2 separate regions of the Homo sapiens genome follow, and region 2 is linked to region 1. A link means that fine-mapping ties the variant in region 1 to the expression of a gene that starts in the linked region. Tissue or cell type: tibial artery. Region 1 holds a variant in brackets; the other region holds the start of a gene. All regions are shown on one strand. Distances are between the middles of the regions.

Region 1 (8,000 bases):
GGCCTGGAGGGGCCCCAATCTCTGAAGGTCAGCAGTGGCGGGGAGGAGGCTTGCGGTGCTGAAGGGACTCGGGGGACCTGCAGGGAGGTGTTGGTGGTCAGGGATGGTGGCACCTGAGGGGACTTTTGGCAGGGCCAGAAGTGCCCAGAGCAAGCTCCGGTGGGGCCCTGCACTGGAGGGCTGGGGTCGAGTGACCCTCTTCCTAAGACCACCCAGGAGGACACTGGGTGCAGGGTGGCCGGAGCCCTCACCCCCAGTAGGCAGCTGCTGTCCACTCCGCCGACCTGCCTGTCACCCAGTAGGCAGCTGCTGTCCACTCCCCCGACCTGCCTGTCACCCAGTAGGCAGCTGCTGTCCACTCCCCCGACCTGCCTGTCACCCAATAGGCAGCTGCTGTCCAGTCCCCCGACCTGCCTGTCAGCCTTTTCCCTGTCAGGCCCTGTTCCTAGGAGCCTGGAGACCTCAGGGGTGGCCTTGAGCCCCCAGGGTTTTTTTGAGGGGAAGCGCCAGCTGCTGTCTTCACCCTTCCCCTAGTGAGGCCAGGCTGTGCAGGGCCACGTGGAGGCAGTCTGTGCTGCGCCCATCGGTCGCCTGGCTTCCTGCCGACCCTCGGCCCCCAGCCACCTCTGGTCTCGGGCAAGGCCCCTCCCCCTGCCCACCTCCTCCCTGGCCCCCACGCCAGGTGGGCAGACCTCCTCTGCGGTTTTTATTCAGGGGGTCCCTCGTTGGCTGCCCACTCTTGGAGGGCTGTCCTGACTCAGGCCTCCCCTCTACTCAGATCCCCTGAGCGAGGGCCTGGGCGTGACGCCGGGAGTTACTGGGGGGCCAGAGGGGGAGGCTCAGCCTGAATCAATGAGACCCAGGAGGAAGGAGGCACGTGGACCTGAGGGCTGGCTGGAGCCGCTGGTGACAGATGGAGGAGTAATTGCTGCTTCCAGAGCACAGCGAGCTCGAGCTCCCTGGAGTGCCAGAAGCTTCTGGGTGGACAGACAGGCCGCCTCACATTCCAGAGGCTGACACAGTCTTCCAGGCACCCCTGGGGCCAGCTGGAAGCCATGTGCCTCCACTCACGTGTCCCGTGGGTGTTTGGAGGGGAGGCTGGCCCTGCCATGGCCCACCCCAGCCTGCGGCCTCAGGAGCTTGCACATTTGCAAGGGGGTGACATGAAGACTGAGCCAGGGCTGCGGCGGGCATCCCCCTCAGAGAACAGGGAGGAGGGGGCACAGGCCTTTTTTTTTTTTTTTTTGACAGAGTCTCACTCTTTGGCCAGGCTGGAATGCAGTGGCACGATCTCAGCTCACTGCCACCTTCGCCTCCCAGGTTCAAGCGATTCTCCTGCCTCAGCCTCCCCAGTAGCTGAGATTACAGGCACCCACCATCACGCCCGGCTCATTTTTGTATTTTTAGTAGAGACGGGGTTTTACCATGTTGTCCAGGATGGTCTTGATCTGTTGACCTCGTGATCTGCTTGCCTCGGCCTCCCAAAGTGCTGGGATTACAGGCGTGAGCCACTGTGCCCTGCCAGGCACGGGCCTTTTTATGAGGGAGGAAGCCGTGCCCTCTGCCACCTGCCTGTGGGCTGGGGCCTGCAGGCTCCCAGGGCCCTCAGCTCCAGCGTGGCTGTTGGTTATTGGCACCTGGGCCTCATGTCCACATGGAAAGTATATTCCGAGCTGGTGGCTAAGCCACAAGAGCCTGCTTACCTGTCCCAACCCCCGGCTCACTTGCTGCCATGATACGTCTGGGATTCTGGGCCCTCCTTCTGAGCTTGGACACAGACTTGGGACTTCAGCGCTGGACACAGGTGCTGGATCTGGGGTCTCAATGGCACCAGGGATGGTCATTCTGACAGCCATGCCCAGAGTCTCAGGAGGGCCTGGGGCCGCAGGTGGACAGGCATCCTGACCAGAGTCTCAGGAGGGCCTGGGGCCGCGGGTGGACAGGCATAGAGTCTCAGGTGGGCCTGGGGCCGCGGGTGGACGGGCATAGAGTCTCAGGAGGGCCTGGGGCCGCGGGTGGATGGGCATAGAGTCTCAGGAGGGCCTGGGGCCGCGGGTGGACGGGCATAGAGTCTCAGGTGGGCCTGGGGCCGCGGGTGGACGGGCATAGAGTCTCAGGAGGGCCTGGGGCCGCGGGTGGACGGGCATAGAGTCTCAGGAGGGCCTGGGGCCGCGGGTGGACGGGCATAGAGTCTCAGGAGGGCCTGGGGCCGCGGGTGGACGGGCATAGAGTCTCAGGAGGGCCTGGGGCCGCGGGTGGACGGGCATAGAGTCTCAGGAGGGCCTGGGGCCGCGGGTGGACGGGCATCTGGACGTCGGCTCCACTAGTGTCACCTCTGCAACCTTGTCCCACCCAGCACCTCCCTATGGCCCTGCTCTGACTGTGGGCTGAGGGGGACCCCCATGGCTAGCTTGGGACCTCCGCTGGACACTGTCATAGGGCACTTGTCGAGTGGCCCTGCTGAGGTTCAGGCTTGGGCGTGTGTGGCCCCTGAGCCCAGCAGCTGCGTGAGCCGTGGGGAGCCGAGCCCCCAGTCAAGAAAGCTGTGTGCTCCTTACCCTGCCTGCTGGGCTTGGGGCCTGCAGGGCAAGGGAGGCGGTGGGATGGGAGCCCCGCCTGGCCTGGTTTCTTGTTGTCGCCGCACTCCTAGCTGTATGTAGTCAGATGAGGCTCCCAGTCCTGGCTCTGCTGCTGAGCACCATTGGGCCGGTGGTTGGGTGAATCTCTCAGCCTCTCTGAGCCTCCAGCACTTCGTCCTTAAGAGTGGAACTGGTCTGGACCTCCCAAGGGGGGGTCACTGGGTGCAGAGTTCCTGCAAGGCTGGGCCCGGTGCCAGTAGCGGTCGCTCTGTGGGGCCTTTCGCACGGTTGATTTTTATCTCCCTGTGAGATTAGCGCCTGCCCTGCTCTGCCTCACGGCTCTGGCTCTCCGGGACTGAGACCACCTGCTAAGTGACAGGGGCGGAAGGACCTTGCAACACAGAGCAAGACGTGATAGGGTGGAGCTGCTCCGCCCAGGCCCCGCCTGCAGATGAGAGGGCCCAGAGCCTCTTAATCCCCTGCGCTCAGGGCATGTGACGGCAGGGAGTCTCTCCAGTGCCGCCCACCGGATTCCTATAGTTAGAGCTCCTCGCCCAAGCCCCCAGGGCACCTCACTGGCCTCCCAGGTGAGGACATGAGGCCCAGCGACTCTGGTGGTGGCTGGTGTCACCTATGGCAGGGCCGCGCGGGGCCCAGTGGAGGACGCCTGGCCCGGACCTGACTGCTCCGTGGGAACCGTGGGGCGTGCTCAGGGTGACTTGGTGCGGCTGGGCTGCCAGCCGGCCTGGCTGAGTCACTGGCAGTGAAGGCACCAGGTGGTGGACGTGCTCGGCAGCTGGCGGGAGAGTACCCCCACCCAGGACCGTGTTCAGGCTGAGGGGGAAGGGAGCGGCCCAGGCAGGCACCGCCCATGGCGGGGCCCCCGCACTAACGGCCACCTCTCCCGATGGACTGCAGTTCTGGAGCCGCCCCTGAGGAGAACGCCCTGCTCAGTGTCCTGGCAGACTCTGGACTCTTCACCGTGCCATCCTCGCTACAGCCTGGCCAGGCAGCCGCTCCCGTCCCCCCACCCCACAGACAGGAACTGCAGACTCCTAAAGGTCGAGCCAGCTCCCAAGTCCATAGCCAGAAAGTGATGCAGGCGGGGCCCGGCTGGGGGGCAGGTGTGACCGGGTCATGGGGGAGCGGGCTGTGCACAGGCATCAGGCTGAGAGGTCTCGGGGATACGTCCTGGGAGCCGCCTGCCAGGCGTCCTGTGGGGCTGCCTGCAGGCCTCCTCTGGCTTTGGCAGGTTCTGTCCCGACAGACCGAGGCTTGGGAAGACCGGATTGTGCACTCTCTGCCTGGAGAGAGGGTGGGGAGGGGCTGGGGCGTGTGGGCAGGGAGAACACCCTGGGAGGCATCAGTCCTCTTCCCTGGGGACGGGCCATGCGTCAACAGTCCCTCACTTCCTCTCTCAGGGGCAGAGGCGTGGGGGTCCCGAGCCTCCAGGTTGGAGTAGGTTAGGAGGGCCTCAGAGCCCCCTGCTGCCCCGCCATGTGGCATTGGAAGGGGTGTGACCCCCTAGGGGATCTGTTAACCACACTCCGCCCCATGCCGGCCTCTCTGTTCCCTCTAACCTGCGCAGGAGCAGGGCCAGCTCTGAGCTAGCAGAGGTGACATGAGGCTCGTCCTGGCCCCGCCCACCCTGGCCCCTCCCTGTTTCCCACCACGCTCCGCCCACCAGAGCTACA[T/G]GTTGTGTTTGAGCCTCAGCCCCAGACCTGGCTCAGGTCCTCAGGAGGAAGCAGTGACAGCCAGGCCCGGGGTCCTCTCCCTGCTCTGCTCCCTGCGTGCTGACTGGAGGCTGCAGGTCCCCAGGCTTGGCCCTGACCCTCAGGAATGGAGCCGGCCGATGTGAGGTGGGGGCTCCGGTCATGTGCAGTGGTAGGAGAGGAGGCGGGACCGGTCCCACAGCTCCATTGCTGCCGAGGCGTTCCGCAGGTCTGTCTTCATATTGGTAAGGAAAATGCGAGGATGGTGTAGCCTGGGCATCCCAGTCCCCAAGTCCGAAATCTAAATCCAAGCGGAAAATTCCAGGCCTGACTTCATACGCCAGGTCACAGTCAGAAGCCAGAATTATTGAAAGTATGCTCTGGGCGTGGTGGCCTCACACCTGTAATCCCAGCACTTTGGGAGGCCATGGTGGGAGGATCACTTGAGGCCAGGAGTTTGAGAGCAGCCTGGGTAACATAGTGAGACCCCCGTCATTATTTACACAAAATTATGTGACTGCCTTTAGGGTATGTGTACGAGGTATATATTGAAATGTGAGTAGAATTTTGTGTTGAGTCCCATCCCCAAGATACCTCATTATGCGTGTGCAAATATTCCAAAATCCAGAAAATCCTAAACTGGAAATACTTCTGGCCCCTTTGGATGAGGGGCCCCCACTCTGCATAGCAAGTGTGGGCGCGGGTGCTGCTGTGTCCTAGCGTACTTCAGTGTGTGGCCTTTGCAGTGAATAGGGCTGGTGTCCTCACTGTACAGATGAGGAAACTGAGGCCCAGCTTGCTTTGCCAAGGTGCATCCGGCCCCGGCCATGGCTATTCTGGCTCCAGATCCCATGGTCTGCAGCCACAATACTGCTGTGCCCCGGACTGGGCCCTGCAGCTCGCGGTGTCGCTGGCCTGCCCATTGTGGGCACCGCCCCCACCCCAGACTGGCCGAGGCCTAGAAGGGAGCAGGGCCTGGCTGAGGCTGCAGGGGTGGGGACGGTCAGCCAGCCCCTCACTGCCAGGAAGGGCGCATCCATCCTGGCCTCTCCCCAGGGAGAAGGGAGGAGCGGCTGAGAGGGAAGCGCTCTTGCCCTGTGGACGAGCTCCTGCCCCACGGACTAGGGAGCCCCCGCCCACAACCTGCTTGTCAGGGCCACCCGGGACCCCCGGGAGTTCGGCTGCTCGCTCTGCTGTTAGGAATTGGATTAGTTTTCCATAAAAACAGGATGTGGTGGGTGAGAGGGCAGTGTGTCCGTCTTTCTCACTCCCCTTTTTCCAGGAACTGAGCACGCGCATAGGTTTTAGCCAGGGCCGTCCAGTCCCCTCCCCACCCCCCACAGGGAACAATCCACTCTCTGCTCTTAAGTGGCCACTTAATCAGCTTCTCCTCCTGGCCCGGGGAGCTTCTTGGAGCCGGCCTGCCGTGGTGGGAACAGCTATGGGGACACCCTGCCATAAGGTCCAGCAGCTAAGCTGGGATGTGGGGGGAGGGGCTGCGAGGCCCAGGCAGTGTGCCAGGCCGCACAAGAGGAGCCCAGCTCTTGCCCCACCAGCTGGCAGCCCTGGACCGAGGTTGGGCCCGTGAGGTTGGCTGGGCCCTGGGCCCTGGGCCCCCCTCCCCAGGACACGACTGTGGTGGCACATGGCTTTGGGGGCTCGTGGGTCCCACTTTGCAGACCTCTGCTTTAAGGGGTCTGGTCCACGGGGTCCCCTCTGGAGGGCCTGGGGGAAATCTCAGGGACCTGGGGTCTGGACCCGGGGGAGGGAGCGGGAGAAGCATGTGCGTGAGTCTCGTGCTGTCAGGGAGCCCGGGAAGTCTGCGAGGGCTTGGGGGTTGTGTCAGGGAGTGTGGGTTTTGCCCTTCAGTGGTGGAAGCTGGCTTGAGTCCCCTCGATCCCTCAAGGCTGTAGTCCTGACTCGGGGCTGTAGGGCAGGGCAGGGTGGGGTCACCCTGAGGCAGAAGGCTCAGCGGAGATGTTCTGGCTTGGCTCTGCCCCTCCCTGGCTGGGTGGCCTCACCCTGTGACCTTTGGGGACCCTGGTTCCTCTGAGCCAGGGGACAGCAGTGACTCCGCCTTCCTAGGTGGCTGAGGATGACATGGGCTCCCCCTGCAAATGTGGGTTCTGGCTCAGTGGCCAAGTGTATGATGGTATGTGGCTCTTGGGGTCCTGAGAGAGATGGGAGAGGAGCAGGGGTTTGTAGGGAAGCTGGCGGCTTCCACCCCAGCCAGTCACCTGCAGTGGGGGAGTTCCAAAGCTGACTGAAGCTTCGACCTTGTGGCTGGTCCCCTTCCTTCCTGCCTCAGTCATTCTGGTCTCTGGGGGATCAGGGCTGGGGGGCTCTGGGCTGTGGGGGCCTGTTTTTGTGACTTAAAGCTCTCCCAGCACAGCCCCCTGACCTCCTTCCTCATGGGCAGGACCTGGCCCAGGGGTCTCAGCACAGCCACAGGCCAGGGATGCCCTTGCAGATGGCCCTGGATGGAATTCCAGAACTCAGAAATGTCTCCTTCCCGTAAGGATGTCCCGAGACTCATGAGACCGTTTCCTTCTGGGAAGGGGGAGGAATGGGGAGATGAGTGAAGAGCGCACTGCAGCTCAATCCGGGAAGAAGCTAATCAATCAATCAGGGAAGCCAATCGATCGGAGAAGCTGATGGGAAAGCTGTGCTTGGTAGAATAGGCTCGTGCGGGCAGAGCAGTCGCGGCACTCACAGGCTGACTGTGAGGACCTTGGGTGTTACTTTGTGCTTCTCTGCATTTTAAAAACTTTTGAAAGTGGAGAAGAGGAAAGTGAATGTTCTCTGAGATTTCATGGAAAGGGGAAACTGAGGCCCACTCTAGCCAGTTTGGGCCCAGGGTTCCAACCTGGGGTGGCCCCGGCCCTCGTGGCCTGAGGTGATCGTCCCTGTGGCTCTGAGAGCAGCTGGGGCCGGGTCCCCGTTCTGGGGCTGGTGATCCTGGGGAAGAGCCAGGCAGTGCCCTGCCCACCTAGTGGTTATGAGCCCAGAATGTTGATTTTTTTCCCTTGGTTGCTTCATGACTTTGTTGAATTTCCAGAGTATGTGTGGGGGCCCCCGGCGTCCCACTCGCCCCAGCCCTGTGGCAGCAGAGCTGGCTGTCAAGCTCAGTCAGCTGGGCCCAGGGCCCCGGAGGTAGGTGGGTGTGTGCCTGAGCTTCCCCTTTGGGCCCTGCCAGGTGCTGGGAGGGACCACACAGGCGGCAGGAACTCGGGGTCCCCAGGCCTCGGCCACACCAGCCTGGTGCTTGTTATATATTGATATGTCTCTCTACCTGTGAAATGGGTATTTATTTTAAGGAGCTGACGCACGCGATTGTGGGGCTGTCACGTCTGAAGTTCGCAGGGCGCGCTGGCTGTCAAGAGCCGCTGTTGCAGTCTCGAGTCCAGGCTGTGCGCTCAGGCCGGGCTTCTCTGTGGCGGTCCTGGGAATTCCTCCTCCGGGCCCTTAGGCGACACTCCCCTGCCTTCAGCTGATTGGATGAGGCCCTCATGCCGTCTGCTGATTTAAATCAATCTCATTTTAAAAACACCTGCACACCAAATTGCGATTGGCGTTTGACTAAACTGGGCAGCGTGGCCCAGCAGCGCTGACACATGAATCAACCCTCACACCCCACCCGCAGGCGTGACCACGGCACCCACGCTGCCGACTGAGAACACAGCCGTGCGCTGACTCGCATGTGATGTCT
Region 2 (8,000 bases), 42 kb before region 1:
CTCCTGCTCTGGTGGCCAAGGGGGCAGGGACACTCATGCGGCATCCCTGCTGCCGCCTAGGGCTGGAGACTGTCCTTAGTACCCTGAGCAGCACCCAGAATCCAAAGTCTGTCCCCGGAAAGTGCCCTCAGGGCCATGCGGCGTCTGACGTGGCACAGAAGTGGCCTGGATGGGGACACAGAACCAAACTGCACTCATTTCAGCCAAGAAGGCTCCTCTTAGCGGCATAAGTCTCCCTTTCTGTTGCCAGGAAAAGTGCCCTCCCATCAAGCAAGGCTTCCGCTAAGCAAGGCTGCACTGTGAGGTCCACACACACCCAGGCGATGGAGGGGTGCGGGCTCCGCTCAGCACCGCACTGAACTGAGCCCAGCAGCGCAGTAGGGACTGGCTTCTCCCTGGGAAAGGCTTCTTGAGAGGCTGAAGCTGCAGGAGAGGGTGATGAGTTGAGAAGCTCAGGGTGGGCCCTCCTGGGAGGACCGCCTGCCCTTTCTAACACTGCTGGCCCTCGGAGGCCCTCAGCCACTTGGCAGCTGCATCCCCCATACCCGGGACCTCCCCACCAAGTTCTCATTTCTCCAATGGCAGCCTTCAGAGCTGAGAGGCCGAGTCAAGAGGGTGCCATCTCCCAAGTTCCCATGATTCCTGGGGAGCGTCTGTGTAGCTGCCCACCTGGACCGAGGTGGTCCCCACACTGAGGCCAATTGGTTGGGGTCCGGGGTTGACCTGGGCAGGGGACACATCAAAACTGCTCGAGGCCAAGCGCGGTGGCTCACGCCTATAATCCCAGCACTTTGGGAGGCCAAGGCAGGTGGATCACCTGAGGTCAGAAGTTTGAGACCAGCCTGGCCAACTTGGGGAACCCTTGTCTCTACCAAAAATACAAAAATGGTTGGGCGTGGTGGCTCACACCTGTAATCCCAGCACCTTGGGAGGCCAAGGCAGGTGGATCACGAGGTCAGGAGTTCAAGACCAGCCTGGTCAAGATGGTGAAACTCCGTCTCTACTAAAAATACAAAAATTAGCCAGGCGTGGTGGCGCGTGCCTGTAATCCCAGCAGCTACTCACTCAGGAGGCTGAGGCAGGAGAATCTCTTGAACCCGGAAGGCAGAGGTTGCAGTGAGCCAAGATCGCGCCACTGAACTCCAGCCTGGGTGACAGAGTGAGACTGTCTCAGAACAGCAACAACAAAATGCCCGCTGCTGCTGGGTCCAGAAGAGCTTGAATAACTGCATGTTCTTTTTCTCAATTTTCATTTCCCAGAACTGGGCACCTCCGGGCTGTGAAAAGTTAGGGAAGTGTCTGACACCTCCAGAATCCATTCCCAAGAAGTGCCTCTGGTCCCACTAGCACCTGCGCAGACTCAGGCCAGGCCTAGAATCTCCGGTTGGCCCTGCAAGTGCCTGGAGGAAGGATGGCTCTGGCCTCGGTCCTCCCCCAACCCTGCCCAAGCCAGACAGACAGCACCTGCAGACGCAGGGGGACTGCACAATTCCACCTGCCCAGGACCTGACCCTGGCGTGTGCTTGGCCCTCCTCCTCGCCCACGGCGCCTCAGATTTCAGGACCCTCCTCCTCGCCCACGGCGCCTCAGACCTCAGGACCCTGCCGTCTCACGCCTTTGTGAACCCCAAATATCTGAGACCAGTCTCAGTTTATTTTGCCAAGGTTAAGGATGCACCTGTGACAGCCTCAGGAGGTCCTGACAACAGGTGCCTGAGGTGGCTGGGGATACAGTTTGCCTTTATACATCTTAGGGAGACACAAGATCAGTATGTGTATGGCGTACATTGGTTCAGTCAGCCTTCCACTGAATACACGATTGAGTCTGGCCCAGTGAATCCGCATTTTTATGTAAACAGTAAGGGAACGGGGCAATCATATAAGCGTTTGTCTCAGGGGAGCCCCAGAGGGATGACTTCCAGTTCCGTCTGTCCTTTGTCCACAAGGAATTTCCCTGGACGCTAATTATGAGGGAGGCGTGTAGCTTCTTATCATTGTAACTATGTTATTTAGAAATAAAACGGGAGGCAGGTTTGCCTAATTCCCAGCTTGATTTTTCTCTTGGCTGAGTGATTTTGGGGTCCGGAGATTTATTTTCCTTTCACACCTTCTCAGCAGCTGCCAAGAATCAGGTGCCCAGCTCCCGCTGCCTCCCGGCCGGCCTCCTCCAGAGGCCAGCGCCACATTGGTTGTTGAAGGGCAGGACTCGGGGCTCCTTGCTGTTCCCACGCCAGCCCAACAGCCCGGGTTGAAGGAAGCCACAGGGCCAATTCTGTGTTGAACCCTCCCCAGGCCCCTCCTCCAGTACCCCCCCACCCCACGCCTTCCCAGGCCCCCCTCGGGCCATCTGGGAGACAGAATCAGGAACAAGGAAGGGGAAGGCGGAGGCCTCCTGGGCTGGACGTGGACGGCTGAAGTGTAGCTCACACACTTGGACCGGTGGGGCCGGCTCATGTGGCAGCTTCCCCGGGGACGTGAGGATGTCAGGGTCCTCCATTTCCACCTTCCCTAGGGGTCTGGAGCCCAGGCCCCAGGCCTTGCCAGCCCTGACCACCGCACACTGCGAGGCAGCCGCCCCTACCACGCCCCTTGGCATCAGACGATGGGTCCCCCACCCGCCCTGGAACCGGGGCCCCAGCAGCCGCATGCAGCCTCCGGCCTCCCCCTCCGAAGGCTCCTGGGGGCTGCCTTCCACTGAGTGGGTTTTCCCTTCTGCAGTAACTGCCAGGCCAAAGCTGAATTGTAAAAGTTGCGAAATGATGGGCCGGGCGCGGTGGCTCACGCCTGTAATCCCGGCACTTTGGGAGGCCGAAGCGGGCAGATCACGGGGTCAGGAGATCGAGACCATCCTGGCTAACACAGTGAAACTGCGTCTCTACTAAAAATACAAAAAATTAGCAGGGCGTGGTGGCGGGCTCCTGTAGTCCCAGCTACTCGGGAGGCTGAGGCGGGAGAATGGCCGGAACCCAGGAGGTGGAGCTTGCAGTGAGCCCAGATGGCGCCACTGTGCTCCATCCTGGGCGACAGAGCGAGAGTCCTTCTCAAAAAAAAGTTGCGAAATGAAGAAAAGTCTTGGAATAGAGCACAAGGCATTTTAGCTCTGGGGATTTTCTTGAAAGGAAATTGTGTTTGGGGGGAGTTATGCCTCACACAACCCCCTGGGTACCAGTCCTCGGGCGGCCAGGGGGTTCACAGCTCCCCACCCCAAGGCTAAGGGGTCACCTGGCCTCTGCAGGCGGACAGAAGGGCTTCTGCCCTCGCGGATGCGCGCCCTGGCCTGGCCACACCTTCCGGCCTCCCTCCCCCGGGTCCGGGCGGGGAAGAGCCGCCTCAACGGCAGGGCCCATCCGCGAGAGGCCAGCGCCCCCGGCCGGTCCAGCCCAGGCCCGCCGCCTCCGCCCTGGGCTGCTCCCTCCGGGCCCTGCACCGCCCTCCTGCTACTTGGACCGCTTCCTCACGCCCTTCTCCACCCCGCGCGCCAGCCTCCCGCGCGCAGCGTGGGGATCTCGGCCAATAAAGGAGAAAGGGCGCGGCCCGTACGCGCGCCAGGTGCGTGGGCGAGACCAGCTCACGCCCCTCCTCCAGCCGCCAAGGCCCCGGCCCACAGCTGCCTGGCTGCAGTCAGAAGCGTAGCCCGAGACAAGGAAGGGCGCCTTGACTCGCACTTTTGTCCGGTTCGAACGTTCTGCTCAGTGGTGCGTGGAATGCGAGCGCGTCTTAAAATCGATGGCGCCTAGGAGTCCATGAAATACGGTACAGGCTTCCGGCGACGGATGCCCCGCCCCTCACCCACGCTCCGCCCTCCGGGGATGCCCCACCCCTCGTGGCGGTCCCGCCCGTCCCCGCGCAGGCGCGCTCGGGCTGCCGCTGGCTCTTCGCACGCGGCCATGGCCGACTCCGAGCTGCAGCTGGTTGAGCAGCGGATCCGCAGCTTCCCCGACTTCCCCACCCCAGGCGTGGTATTCAGGTGCACGCACAGGCCGCCCTCGTGGCGCCCCGACCTGCGGGCCTACGGATGGGAGCGCGTGGCCCGCGACCTCCGGGCGGGCGGGGCGGGAACCCTCGTCTTTCGCCCCCGGGGCCCTGCCCTCCTTCGGCCCCGGCGTCACCAGGCCTGTCCTTGGGTCCAGGGACATCTCGCCCGTCCTGAAGGACCCCGCCTCCTTCCGCGCCGCCATCGGCCTCCTGGCGCGACACCTGAAGGCGACCCACGGGGGCCGCATCGACTACATCGCAGGCGAGTGCCCAGTGGCCGCATCTAGGGCGCTTCCGCCTCTGCGCGCGCCGAGGGCAGCACGTGGGCTCTGCGCGTCTGCTTGGGGGAGGGCCTTTGGGGTGCTTCAGGGGGCGCCGGGACGGGCGCCGTGCTTGGGTCGCCCGGGAAGGGTTGTGAGATTGAGCCCCCGAGGCCGCCGCGCTGTGCAGGCGTCCTTCCCGCAGGTTCCGGGTCCCCAGCCCAGGACAGGCGTGACCGAGTTGCCGGGTCAGTTGGTCTCCCTGGAGTGCCCAAGCTGAATCCACAGGGCCCAGCTGCCTTGCTTCTTGTTCCTTCTGCGAGCTGGTATTGAGCGCCTGCCACGAGCCAGGCCTTCCCTGGTGAAGATCACGGAATGCCCACCCAGGGAAGGGAGGCCTGGAGGCCTCCGGGAGAGCCCAAGAGGTGGCCCAGGGAGAACAGAGTGTTCCTGGCCGTCTTGCCTCTCCTAGGGTGTGACAGCCCACTCCCTGGACACTGCCCTGAGGAAAGCGCCAGCTCTTGCTGGAGCCACAACACTGCCAGAGCTCCCTTCTCACCTCCTGCAGGAAGCCCTCCCTGACCTCCTGCCAGGCCGGGGCAGGGTTTCCCTGAGCGTCCCCCAACCATCACAGCTCAGGCCACCTCGAGAGACTCCCTTTTTAGACAGAAGCCCTGGTGCAGAGCTGCCTTTGAGAGTAAGCTGAGGCCTGTCAGGTTTCTACCAGCCCAGTTACAGATGGGCTGCTCAGCTCAGAGAGAGGGGTGGTGACTCCCCTAGGAACACACAGCTAAGAAGTGGTCCCTTAAAAGACAGACCCAGGTCTGCACTCTGACCTGGAAGCAGCTCCGGGTAGGTGATGGGTAACATTCCTTAAATGGTGCATGTCACTGGCCTTTCAGCTGGGAGCCAACCAGGTACCCCTTGCCACCGGCCAACCCTGGCCCCTGGGGATTCCCATGCTGCCGAGTCACTCCTGTCACTTACCCTGACAGGCCTAGACTCCCGAGGCTTCCTCTTTGGCCCCTCCCTGGCCCAGGAGCTTGGACTGGGCTGCGTGCTCATCCGAAAGCGGGGGAAGCTGCCAGGCCCCACTCTGTGGGCCTCCTATTCCCTGGAGTACGGGAAGGTAAGAGGGCTGGGGTGGCCAGAGGAAGGGCAGGGCCAGGCCACCGTGGCCACTCTCCCCCAGTTCTAAAAGGCCTTCCCAGGCGTGTCAAGTGGAGCTGCTGTGGTTACAGTGGCCTTGGGAGCTCAGAGAGGTTGAGACATAGGCTGGGCTCACACAGCCAGGTAACAGCAAGGTGGGGTTGGAGTCAGGGTCTAGGGTGGCAGCTGCCAAGCTGTGCAACAAAGCTGTTTTCTGCGGGAGGCTGAGGACCACACACCACTTCCCACTCCAGGCTGAGCTGGAGATTCAGAAAGACGCCCTGGAGCCAGGACAGAGGGTGGTCGTCGTGGATGATCTGCTGGCCACTGGTGGTAAGGGTCTCCCCGCAGCCAACTGCTGTGGCTCCAAGGGCCTGGTGGGAGTGGGACAGGACCTCGCTGTGTGACATGGGATGCAGCTTACTGTTGTCCAGAGGGTGCCTGGTGGCCAGGCCGACACCTTCCTCTCCCCATGCCTTCCCCTCCCCAACCCAGGGGCTGGCCTGGAGCACCTGCTCTCTGCAGCCCAGGCCAACTGGGGACCTCACCCTCCCATCCCCAGGAACCATGAACGCTGCCTGTGAGCTGCTGGGCCGCCTGCAGGCTGAGGTCCTGGAGTGCGTGAGCCTGGTGGAGCTGACCTCGCTTAAGGGCAGGGAGAAGCTGGCACCTGTACCCTTCTTCTCTCTCCTGCAGTATGAGTGACCACAGGGCCTCCCAGCCCAACATCTCCAGCTGGATCCCAGGGAAATATCAGCCTTGGGCAACTGCAGTGACCAGGGGCACCGGCTGCCCACAGGGAACACATTCCTTTGCTGGGGTTCAGCGCCTCTCCTGGGGCTGGAAGTGCCAAAGCCTGGGGCAAAGCTGTGTTTCAGCCACACTGAACCCAATTACACACAGCGGGAGAACGCAGTAAACAGCTTTCCCACAAGAGCCGTCTCCTGTCCTCCTGTTCCCCAGGGCAGGGAGCCCCAGGACAACACCAGACTTCAGCTGTACTGTGGGCATGTGCTGCTTGGCGTGATGCCCAGCAGAACCTGTCCTGGTTCTCACCTCAGGAGCTAGAACCCTCCAGGCACTGCAGGAAGAGGCCATGTGGGCCCATCTTCTAGGGGAGCAAGCGAGGGCTCTTCTGCAGATCTAGTGGCTGTAAGCATGACTTTATTAGAGTTTAGGAGGTCAGAAATACTGAAGTCAAGGTGTGGGCAGAGGCCAGTCCCTTCTGGAGGCTCCAGGGATGTCCTACTTGTCCTGCCCAGCTTCTCCAGGCTGCCTGTGTCGGGGCAGGGCCGCGTCTTCAAAGCTGGCTGGCTCTGGCCCTGTCATGAAGGCCCTGTGATGACATGGGGCGTAGCTGGACAATTCAGGATCACCTCTCCAGTCTTGAAATTTTTTTTTTTGAGACGGAGTCTCGCTCTGTCACCCAGGCTGGAGTGCGTGCAGTGGTGCGATCTTCGCTCACTGCAAGCTGTGCCTCCTGGGTTCACACCATTCTCCTGCCTCAGCCTCCCTAGTAGCTGGGACGACAGGTGCCCACCACCACACCCGGCTAATTTTTTGTATTTTTAGTAGAGATGGGGTTTCACCATGTTCGCCAGGATGGTCTCGATCTCTTGACCTCGTGATCTGCCCACCTTGGCCTCCCAAAGTGCTGGGGTTACAGGCGTGAGCCACCACACCCACCCCAGTCTTTCTTAATGACAAAAGTCACCCTTTGCTGTGGGAGGTCCCATATTCAGAGGTTCCAAGATTAGAGGGGATGGCCTGCCACCCACACTACCCAACCCCATATTGCCACAGAGCCCCCTTCACCCCCAGCCACACTCCCGATGGCCCCCCAGGGGGTGCTGGATCTGGCTTCCCTTCCCCACCAGCAGCAAGGACAGAGGTGCCCACAGAAACCGGTTTAATGTGAATCCACCAGGTGAGCCCCATGAAGGGGCCCACCGCCCGCAGCCAGAGACCCTCGGGCTGTGCAGCCTGCAGCCCACATCTGCCTCTGGCCCTCAGGGGCGCTGGGGAAAGGAAGGCCAAAGTGTATCATGTTCATAAAAGAAAATGCTGGTGGGCCCAGGCCAGCGAGCTTCTGAAGCCCACGTCTGTCCACAGTGGCCCCCAGGCTCACAGCCCCTCCTCAGCACGTGTCTGGTGGGCCAGGCGTGCAGTGATGTGGGCGAGGTCCGCGGCCTTGTCCAGCTTGACGTAGGTGTCGGTGCGGATGCGGTGGAGGCTGAGCCAGTCCGGCAGCAGCTCGGAGAGGAGCAGCAGGTGCTTCTCCATTTCCCCTGGGGGAGGAGAGGAGGACACTGAGGCTGGTGCTGGGCCCCAGCCCTGCACGGGCAGCACTTGAAACCAGCCTGACCACCCAACCTCTGTGCCTGCCTGGTCGCCCTCAGGGCCCCATCACCAGGACTTAGGGCAGAGGTGGTTCTGATCAGAGGCCCAGGTCTGGGTGGTGTGAACAGTGACCGGAGAGAGCCAGGCCTACAGTTGAGGCCCTGTGAGGAGGCACCGAGCATGGAGGCCGCCAGCCCATGAAAGCCCTGAGGCAGGAGGTGCCCTGTAGCGTCAGGACCCCTATGTGCTCAGGGCCTGGTCACCAGAGGCCTGGGAG

The links. PIP is the estimated chance that this variant, and not a neighbour inherited with it, causes the effect.
Region 2: it holds the start of APRT, and the variant in region 1 is fine-mapped to the expression of APRT in tibial artery (GTEx, PIP above 0.99). The same link has a PIP of 0.9 or more in gastroesophageal junction and whole blood.

Annotation. Positions count from the first base shown.
Region 1 is chr16:88,766,022-88,774,021 of GRCh38, reverse strand. All of the region lies in intron 1 of PIEZO1 (piezo type mechanosensitive ion channel component 1 (Er blood group)), which reads left to right. Among named protein-coding and RNA genes, the nearest start is that of PIEZO1, 15 kb to the left of the region's middle. RefSeq lists enhancers at 2,884-3,467, 3,468-4,051, 4,636-5,219, 5,220-5,803, 5,804-6,389. The variant T/G (reference allele first, on the strand shown) is at 4,274.
Region 2 is chr16:88,807,786-88,815,785 of GRCh38, reverse strand. APRT (adenine phosphoribosyltransferase) reads left to right here and starts at 3,858. Exons shown (of 5, transcript NM_000485.3): 1 at 3,858-3,966; 2 at 4,130-4,236; 3 at 5,230-5,363; 4 at 5,638-5,716; 5 at 5,946-6,447. The coding sequence starts at 3,887. The coding sequence ends at 6,088. CDT1 (chromatin licensing and DNA replication factor 1) reads right to left here. Exons shown (of 10, transcript NM_030928.4): 10 at 6,528-7,671. The coding sequence ends at 7,508. It overlaps GALNS (galactosamine (N-acetyl)-6-sulfatase), which reads left to right. Exons shown (of 14, transcript NM_000512.5): 14 at 1,261-2,052. The coding sequence ends at 1,347. RefSeq lists enhancers at 2,115-2,798, 2,799-3,483, 4,989-5,524 and silencers at 3,196-3,455, 3,706-4,105.